Regions from separate parts of the Homo sapiens genome. Here region 2 is linked to region 1. The links come from fine-mapping of genetic effects on gene expression. Tissue or cell type: fibroblasts. Region 1 holds a variant in brackets; the other region holds the start of a gene. All regions are shown on one strand. Distances are between the middles of the regions.

Region 1 (5,220 bases):
GTTGGGGGGAAAGGAAAGAAGATGGACATATGGCTGCATAACCATATTTCCCTGGCTGAGTCTAGTCACCCAAACCCTCTGTTTGGATTTTAGATCCTGCAAGTCAGGCATGTACTTACCACAGTGCCTGGCACAGAACAGGTACTCAATAAATGTATGACAAATGAAGCATGCAAGGATGAATGAGACAAGTCACAAAAGCAGGGAGCAGTGACTCAGGAAATAAGGAGACCTGATAGAAACTTTCTGGGTGTCCTTGGCAAGTCACCTCATGCAAGTTGGGAGCAATAATGATAACTTCCCTATACTCCTCAGAGTTAGTTTTACAAGGTTTGAAGTAGTTAAGAGCACACTTCTAGAATAAGAAAGACTGCCAGGTGGGTGATTTTAGACAAATTATTTAATAATTAATGGTAGTATTCCACAGATATTAATATCTTTTTTGCTAGCATGTTTGCATGGATTATGTGAGATAATGTAAGTAAAGAATTTAGCAGACTCTGGAACATAAGTGCTTCAAAAATATTAGCTATTATATTCAAGTAAAACAAGATCAGGAAATGAAAGGGTTTTAAAAGCTCTACTGAGGCCAGGTGCAGTGGCTCATGCCTGTAATCCCAACATTTTGGGAGGACAAGGTGGGGAGATCACCTGAGGTCGGGAGTTCAAGACCAGCCTGACCAACATGGAGAAAACCCGTCTCTACTAAAAAAAATACAAAATTAGCCAGGCGTGGTGGCACGTGCCTGTAATCCCAGCTACTCGGGAGGCTGAGGCAGGAGAATCGCTTGAACCTGGGAGGCAGAGGTTGTGTTGAGCCGAGATCGTGCCATTGCACTCCAGACTCCAGCCTGGGCAACAAGAGCGAAACTCTGTCTCAAAACAAAAACAAAAACAAAACAAACAAACAAAAACACTCTACTGCAACATAACACAACTCTACTGAAACAAAAAGTAGGTTTTGGCCTGGCATTTGTAGAACTTTGTTTTTGTTTTTTTGAGACAGAGTCTCACTTTGTCACCGAGGCTGGAGTGCAGTGGCGCAGTCTCGGCTCACTGCAACCTCTGCCTCCCAGGTTCAAGAAATTCTCATGCCTCAGTCTTCCAAGTAGCTGGGACTATAGGCATGTGCCACCACACCCAGGGAATTTTTGTATTTTTAGTAGAGACAGGGTTTCACTGTGTTGGCCAGGCTGGCCTTGAACTCCTGACCTCAAGTGATAACCTACCTCAGCCTCCCAAAGTTCTGGGATTACAGGTGTGAGCCACCACGCCCAGCCTGGCCTTGCACCTGTATAACTTCAGGTTGATGTTTACAGGCTCCAACTGAACTCACCTGAACACCGTACTCTGTGGGGAGTTCGAGAGTGCATGCTGGCGTTTCCACTGCCAAAGTCCACTTCCAGATGCATACCTTCTGTAGGTGACAGTAGAGAGAGGGGCATGAGAAGGTCTGTGAAGTCTGCTGAAGTAACTTACACCTCTTGTGGTGACCCCAAAACTTCAAGTAACTAAGGACAGAGGCCCAGACTCTGTGCTGTGGAGTCTGGTCTTTTGAGAATATCACAGACATCACACAGCCCAGCCTGAACAGAGCTGCCCATGGGGACACGCTGCACAGGTCGGCCAGCTCGCTGATGCTGACCCAAAGGGCCAGGGCCTTTACCTGGACTTCAGCATCTGAGATGGTTGCCAGATACTTGGCGTCGTGGGTCATGGCCATGGCCATGATGCCATTCCCTTCAGGGCAGCTGTCAAATATTGTGTGCACAGGAATACTGCAAAACAGGACAAGGGGGGCGACACTTGCTGAGGTCTCCCTGGCTTCCCAGAGAGTCCCAGGGCAGGTCTGAGCTCAGCCCAAACCTCTCCAAAACAGAACAAAATGTGGTCTATCCATACAGTGGAATCTTTCTGAGTCATAAAAGGGAATGAAGCACTGATGCATGCTATGACATGGATGAGCGTCGGAAGCGATGCTGAGTGAAAGAAGCCAGGCACGAAAGGCGTGTGGTGTATGAGTCCACTCATATGAAACGGCCGGAATAGGCAAACCCACAGAGACAGATAATGGATGCAGGGTGTCCTTCTGGGGCGGTGAAAATGTTTTGGAACTGGATAGAGATGATGGTTGCATAAGAGTGTAAATGTATTAAATGTCACCGAACCGTATGCTTTAAAATGGTCAGTTTTATGTTATGCGAATTTAACCTCAACAACAATAATAGTCAAGCCTAACTCAAGGCAATGGGCCTGCTGTTTGCCCTCTTCACAAGCTCTAGGTTCTCATTCACTAGGTACCAGGCACTGATTCTGTGCCAGGTTGTGCCTGGCAGGAAGGATGTAAATATGAAAAGATGACTAGGACAACGTCCCAGCTCTCAGGGAATCGGGCACTCTCCTACACAGGTGGGAATGCAAAGGAGCAGCACTTTTCTAGAAGCAGTTTGGCTGTATCTATCAAAACCTTCAATGCATACACCCTACAGCCCAGTAACTCCACCCTTACGACTTTTTCCTAGGGAAATCATGGAAAAAGTAAACAAAGGTCAATGAAAATTCACAGTCATCATGGTACTGCTCTAATAGCAAAAATCAAACAACACAAATGTCCCTTAATATACCATACATGAATTATTTAAAAAGATATTATAGCATAACCATATGATAAGAAACTAGGCTGGGCACAGTGCTGCATACTGGTAATCCCAGCACTTTGGGAGGCTGAGGAGGGTGGATTGCTTGAGCTAAGGAGTTCAAGATCAGCCTGGACAACATGGCAAAACCCTATCTCTACCAAAAATAGAAAAATTAGCCAGGTGTGGTGGCACGTGCCTGTGGGCCCAACTACTTGGGAGGCTGAGGTGGGAGTATCGCTTGAGTCCAGGAGGTTGAGGCTGCAGTGAGCCAAGATCACGCCACCGCACTCCAGCCTGGGTGATAAAGCAAGATCTTGCCTCAAAAAAAAAAAAAAAAAAAAAGGCCAGCATGGTGGCTCACACCTGTAATTCCAGCACTTTGGGAGG[C/T]CAAGGCAGGTGGATCACCTGAGGTCAGGAGTTCGAGACCAGCCTGGCCAACATGGTGAAACCCCGTCTCTACTAAAAATACAAAAAATTAGCCAGGTGTGGTGGTAGGCACCTATAATCCCAGCTACTCGGGAAGCTGAGGTAGGAGAATCACTTGAACCCAGGAGGCGGAGTTTGCAGTGAGCCAAGATTACACCATTGCACTCCAGCCGGGGAACAAAAGTGAAACTCCATCTCAAAAAAAAATAAAGACATAAAAATAAAAAATAGAAATAAAAATAAAAACTTTGCTGCCTTCAAAAAGAATGAGGTAGATTGGGAAAGTGACCAAAATTTGTGAAAAAAGCACACTGCAAAACAATCGCATCATCCTAATCATGTGTGTGTGTGTGCGTGTGTATGTATTGAAAAAACTCTGGAGGAATAGACTCCAAACTGTAAGCAATGGTTCCTCTGAAGATGGGGTTTGGGTGAGGAGGAACTTTTATTTTTTGCTCTTACATTTCCATACTGTGTTACTGACAAGACCTTAGAGCTGTATGATTCCAACACAGCCTTGAAATACCCAGAATTAGATGACATGCAAGTATCTAAGACAGCCAAAGCACAGAAGCAGTGGAAGCGAAGATGGAAGCTGTAATGGTTGGGTTGGGGGAGGTCTGCTGATTCCCACTGGAATGAAAAGTAGGTGGTAGCAAGACTTAAACCAGGAATGCGGGTCACATGGTTCTTTTTTGTTTGTTTGTTTGTTTGTTTATGGAGTCCTAGATACAGTGAAGATAAACAGGCCTCAGCATCTCTGTATGTCACGCTAGGGTCCCAACTGGCTGGTATCAAGTCTGTGTCCCAGCTGAGGACTTCTCTGGTTCTCTGTCACTGGAGAAACTTCATCCTACTGAGAAGTAGCCCCAGAAATTCACCTGGGAAGGCAATTCCAAAATGATTGGAAATAACACAGTGAAGTCCTTAGTGAGAAAATGTATCTCATCCCTGGAGATACTTGGAATTGAATATAGAGAAGATGAAGTCAGTCAGACCTGCATTATTAACATATTTGTGATAAGAGAATTTGTTCATTTTTTAGGAATTTGTAATGTTTAAGTGAATTTGACATACCAGAGTTGCTAACAGATTAGATTTGTGATGCTAATTTAAAATATATAGTTGATTTAGACTTGTGATTTTAAATTAAAATCGTAATAGGTTTATAAACAATATTAGAACACTTAAGGAAACTTAAGATTTACCATATTTATGTCTAATTTACTAGATTTGCAGTAATTACTTAAGTACCATGAAGGATTTGTTTGTTAATCAGACTACTAAAAAACGTAAAGAAACTAAATCTCTTAAATATTGAAATGCAGTTTTACATGTTTAAAAGGAGTTAATAACCAAATTTGTAAGTGGGGCCAAACATTAATCAAAGCCTCTTCAAAGGTGATTGCAAAAATATGCTAGATTTATAAACAGAGTAAGATTTTTAAGCTGAGCGAAAAACTGGAGGAAGAACTACGGTTTTTAATTTATCACTAATAAAATGAATATTAATCCTAAAACCAAAACAGCCTCTGAATAATCTTTTCTGGGTCCCAAAGTAATCACTTGGGATATCATAAAATTCATATTAACATAGCATTTGCATTATTAACCACAGATATGCTTTACTGTGAAATTTTTTAAAAAAAATCACTGCCCTCAAGTTGCTTCATGTCTAGTAGAGAGAGAGTTTCACAAATAAGGAAAAAACAGTGGCTCCACATCATAACGGGGCAGCTCTGTCTGGTGAAGGTGTTGGTCAGCAAAGGCTTCAGAGATGAGACACACCTGAAGGACTCTGACCCTTCTGCCGGCCGACTGCAGGCTTCTACTGCATGAGATAATACCCTTCCCTTGTGGTTAAGTTGGATGTGCCAGTACTTGCAGCTGAGAGCGTGTAGCAGCCACAGACGGCTATGGGTGCAGGCAGCGGGCATTTCACTTTCTGGGGGAAGTGTCTGCAGGGCCCTAATGCAGGGTGCGTGTCCCCTGTAGCATAAGTTGATTTGACAATGGACAGTCTCTAAAGGGTTTTAATCAGGGTGGCAACACAATCAGATTTGTCTGGGAAAACATCACACCAACAATGTTGTGGAGACAAGCTACATGAAGATATCCATATACGTGTGTTCAAAACAAAAGCAAATGTTTTGGA
Region 2 (5,220 bases), 23 kb after region 1:
TCAGCTTCCCATTTCCATCTCCTAGTGCACTAACCTACTGATGAAATGTGCATAAATGGCTCTGTTCCCTTTCCATAGGAATAAAAAGAATGTCATGTTTCTGACCAGGCACGGTGGCTCATGCCTGTAATCCCAGCACTATGGGAGGCCAATGCAGATGGATCACCTGAGGTCAGGAGTTTGAGACCAGCCTGGCCAACATGATGAAACCCCGTTTCTACTAAAAATACAAAAATTAGCTGGGTGTGGTGGCAGGCGCCTGTAATCCCAGCTACTTGGGAGGCTGAGGCAGGAGAATCGCTTGAACCTGGGAGGCAGAGGTTGCAGTGAGCCAAGATCATACCATTGCACTCCAGCCTGGGTAACAAGAGCAAAGTTCTGTCTCAAAAATAAAAACAAAAAAAGAATGTCATATTTCTGGCCAGGCACAGTGGCTCACGCCTGTAATCCCAACACTTTGGGAGGCTGAGGCGGGAGGATCAGTTGAGGTCAGGAGTTTGAGACCAGCCTGGCCAACATGGTGAAACCCCATCTCTACTAAAAATACAAAAAGTTGGCCGGGCGTGGTGGCTCACGCCTGTAATCCCAGCACTTTGGGAGGCTGACGCGGGTGGATCACGAGGTCAGGAGATCGAGACCATCCTGGCTAACACGGTGAAACCCCGTCTCTACTAAAAATACAAAAAATTAGCCGGGCTTGGCGGTGGGCGCCTGTAGTCCCAGCTACTCGGGAGGCTGAGGCAGGAGAATGGTGTGAACCCGGGAGGCGGAGCTTGCAGTGAGCCGAGATCGTGCCACTGCACTCCAGCCTGGGCAACACAGCGAGACTCCGTCTCAAAAAAAAAAAAAAAATACAAAAAGCCTGGTGTGGTGGTGGTGCCTGTAATCTGAGCTACTCAGAAGGCCGAGGCAGGAGAATAGCTTGAATCTGGGAGGCGGAGGTTGCAGCGAGCCAAGATCATGCCACTGCAGTCCAGCCTGGGCAACAGAGCGAGACCCTCTCTCAAAAAAAAAAAAAAAAAAAAAAAGTCACATTTGTGGGAAACCTTTTTTTTTTTTTTCTCTTGAGACAGAGTTTTGTTCTTGTTGCCCAGGCTGGAGTGCAGTGGCACGATCTTGGCTCACTGCAATTACTGCCTCCAGGGTTCAAGCTATTCTCCTGCCTCAGCCTCCCGAGCAGCTGGGATTACAGGCGTCTGCCACCACACCCAGCTAATTTTTGTATTTTTTCAATGGAGGCAGGGTTTCACCATTTTGGCCAGTCTGGTCTTAAACTCCTGACCTCAAGTGATCCGCCCGCCTTGGCTTCCCAAAGTGCTGGGATTACAGGCGTGAGCCATCACGCGCAGCTGGGAAATCTTAAAGTATATGTATTTGTGGCCCAGATCTTAAAAATACTGATCCAGGGCCTGTCAACTTTCTGGGAATAAACACCTTGTAGCCTTTTTACTCATTTAAAATATATTTATATTCCCACAGGCAGCAAAATGCATAACCCACATATTAGCAACAATTCTAGAAACAGGAATACGAGAAGAAGCAGGGTAGCCTAGTGGTTAAAAGCAAGGGCCTTGCTGTCAGCTTGTCCTAGCATTGAATCCCATTTCCACCACGTACTTGCTCTGTGACCTTGGGCAAGTCACTTTACCCCTCAGAGTCTGCATTTTCTCATGGGCAAAATGAAAAGAATAATCCTAAATTCTAGGGTTGTTGTAGAGAAGTGATAACATATATAAAATGCTCATCACAATTCTGGCACATACAGCTTGAAAAAATGGTAGCAGTTGTTATTATTTGAGAGAAAAGCAACCCTAATGTGCAAAGAAATGAACAGTTTGAAAGCCTTCTGGCATATTCTCCATTTATTCCTTACAACAAACAAGAGTTTGAACTAGGAAAACAATAAGGATGGATACTTTATCCCTAAAGAGTTGGACCCCGAACAAAAAAAATCCCTACATTTTCAGTGACATTAGAATAAGAGAACTCAACACTTTGAAAATAAAGTCCCAGAGAGTACAGAGTAGAAAAGGTATTTCTATTTCTTAATTTCTTTCTCAGCACTAAATGTATCAGCTCCTCAAATTCATCTCTGGTAAAAAAAAAATAATAATAATAATAATAAATAAATAATGAATGGATAAATGAGTTTGAGGCTCTGAGAGGTGAAGTGACTTATTCAAGATGACACCGCTAGTAAGAACGAGATTTCTCTGGCACTTAGTTTCTCCAGCTGAAAAATCACTGCTCTGAATCAAGTCTAGGGCTCTCACCACCGAGCCTCTTTTGACTGAGCCCAACTTCGCCGGCGCGTCTGGACAGCCGGGTTCGAGCCGCAGGGGTTTGGGGCAGGGGTGCCAGGTGCGTGGCTCTGCGAGGGGATTAAAGCCCAGGTGCGGCCTCTGCCTCCAACTCAGGTCTCCCTGGGGCCGCCCCAGGCCCCACAAGGGCCAGGTCGGGTGAGCGCCCCCCAAGGGGCACCAGACCCCGCCAGGTCGGGGGCCCCCTCGCCAGGGCCGCGTGGCCTCCGCCCCGGACTTACAGAGAGCACCCACCCCGGTCTTCAAAAGGCCAGAGTCGTCCCGCCGCCTGGACCCCTCAGCCACCTCCCGGGCCTCCTTCCAGCGGCCGCCACCTTCTCCACCAGCTCCCTAGTTCTGGTTGCCACCCAAGCTCCGTCCCCATGGCAACCGCCACCGCCGGAAGCGACAGGCCCTAAAGCGACAGGGCAGGGCGGTGGTCACGTGCCAGGAAACGGTGACGAGCGTGCCCGACGTGCCTCCTGCCGGTCGCTGGCGGCATAGACTTTCCTCGCTTTTCTGTCCTTCCTCCGCTCGCACGATCCCACCTTTTCACATGGTCCCGTCCCCTAAGAAGCTGCAGCGGCCAATACTGCCAATTTTTACTTTCCGCAACCTTGGCAAGATGGGGTGGAGAAGTATGAACTCGGATACAATGCTCTTTTCCAAAAGCAAACTGAATTTCCAGGTCTCATGGATGCAGCACACAACCGTCCTGCCTGCCTCCTCACCGGGCACCGCGTGTTGCAGACAATTCCAGCTGGCTGGGGGCAGATATGACACAGGGTGCACCAGCTTGCGGTTCTCAGCACAAAGCGTTTCCGCAAAACCGGTCTGGCTATATCTATTAGGATCATTCCACGTCAAAGTGGCTCTCCACTAACATCTCATGGAAGACGGCAACAGGTGGCCACACGGGTTTCCACTGGGACCCCTGCAGGAAACCAGCCAGAGCCACTGAGGCAGAAGGCTCTCTGCTGCTGTCATTTTAGGAGAATGTGAATAATTCTCCCCGCCCACACTGCCATGCCCCAGTGATGGTAAATTGATTAATATGCATACATCTTAAAATAAAAAAGAAAGGATAAACTGGGCAAGCTGTGTTTATTATAGTCTGAGACTTTATAAAAGAGACTGGAAAATACGTGGAATTAGAACATGCAATTTAAACAGCAAACATTGGTAAACACAGCATGTCTGTGGCTACCAGAGGGGAATACGTATGGCTGTCAGGTCAAATAGAGTTTGAGGGAATTCGCCCAATAGGAAGGCTTTGGAATTGAGTGTGAGAACCTGTGGCTGGAAGCACACAGCAATACCAATCCCATCAAGGCAAGCTGGTATCTGTATCCAACCACAGCAAAACCAGTCCCAAGGAACACAGGGCTTGCCTGGCAGAACTGCCAAAACAGAAAGCGGTGTGCAAGAACTGGGGAAATGAACACTGATACCATGGAGAGGAAAAAATAATTCAAAGTATTGGCAGGAATCCCTGAGAACCATTTTACCATCTTAAAAGAGACAAAAAATAAAAGGGAGGAAGAATAAGCATTTTCAAGAGGTCTGATCTACTCGTTCCTATCCATACCTCAGCGGTTTACAAAATAGCGCTGATCTCAGGGCATAGCCAGGAGGTTCAATTATAAAAAGTCAAACTAGCAGTGGGCTGGGCGCAGTGGCTCACGCCTGTGATCCCAGCACTTTAGGAGGCCAAGGCAGGAGGACTGCTTGAGCCCAGGAGTTCGAGACCAACCTGGTCAACACAGGGAGACCCTGTCTCTACAAAAAATAAATTAGCTATGCATGGTGGTGCACGCCTGTGGTCCCAGATACTTGGGCGGCTGAGGCAGTGCCCACAGCGTCAAGGCTTCAGTGAACCTTGATCACGACACTGCACTCCAGCCTGGGTGACAAAGCAAGACCTTGTCTCCAGAAAACAAAAACAAAAACACACAAAAACGGAGGGGTTCTTACTAGCGAAGTGAAAGGAGCTTGCTGCCCTCTGGTGGGTTCCTAAAGAGGAAGCTGACAGGACACCACGCTGGGCCACCTGGGAAGCCTCCAGGCTTTCCCTGTTCTCCAAAGGGAGCTACTATGGCCCTGACAGCCCAGCTGCTGAGGAAGCACAGTACTTAACCATTTCCGTATCCACAGCAGCAAGGCCTCAGTGCAAAGAAATATGTTGGTCAAAGCCTGACTTTGCAATTGCTAGCCTGTTTTGCCCAACTTTCTATGAAGCTCTTCTGACCCCATCTGAGCTTTGGTTTGGGAGGGTCATAAGAAATTCAGCTGGGGTGACAACAGGGTCATATCAGCACTGTAAAACTCTTTATTAAAAATAATAATAATAATCACACCAGTACCTGCCAGAATAACTTCCGCCCACTTGCCCACAATCCAGGGAATTCCTATTTAGGGCCGTGGCCTAATTTGTGAAAGAGGCCAAGCCTAAGTTTTTAAGAATGCCTTAATCCAGGGAGATTACACTGGTGGGCCACAGTACTGCCACCACACAGAAGTTCAGGTTACAAGCCTCTTCCAGATCCTTATGCTTCAGGGAGAGAAGACAAGTTGGAAATCCCTAGACCCAAGTCCAGGGCAAGGGAAGATGCTTTCCTGTTACTGTTCCCCAGGGACAATCATCTTTGCAGAGGAATAATGTTGCAGCTGGAAGAAAGAAGAAAAGGAATGGCGTAAGTTTGGAGGCTCCCTTCAGGAAGGTCAGAGGCTGAGCCCTTCTGACCTTTTCACCAATGTTCTTTCATTCTTTTAAAGCAAATGCCTAGTGCATGAATGAACTGGAGAGACTCCCAGGAGAGACTCTGGGGCTCCCTCTGCTTCTAGAGCTGTAGTCTCGTTCCTACCACGAGGATTTATCTGCAGTTTCCATGCAAACTGGGGATTCCCATTATTCCCCAAT

Evidence for each region. PIP is the estimated chance that this variant, and not a neighbour inherited with it, causes the effect.
Region 2: CFAP251 starts here. The variant in region 1 is fine-mapped to the expression of CFAP251 in fibroblasts (GTEx, PIP above 0.99).

Annotation. Positions count from the first base shown.
Region 1 is chr12:121,939,092-121,944,311 of GRCh38, reverse strand. CFAP251 (cilia and flagella associated protein 251) reads right to left here. Exons shown (of 22, transcript NM_144668.6): 6 at 1,667-1,778; 7 at 1,337-1,417. Among named protein-coding and RNA genes, the nearest start is that of CFAP251, 23 kb to the right of the region's middle. The variant C/T (reference allele first, on the strand shown) is at 3,027.
Region 2 is chr12:121,916,031-121,921,250 of GRCh38, reverse strand. CFAP251 (cilia and flagella associated protein 251) reads right to left here and starts at 2,659. Exons shown (of 22, transcript NM_144668.6): 1 at 2,556-2,659. PSMD9 (proteasome 26S subunit, non-ATPase 9) reads right to left here. Exons shown (of 6, transcript NM_002813.7): 6 at 2,954-4,967. The coding sequence ends at 4,940. RefSeq lists a silencer at 2,381-2,530.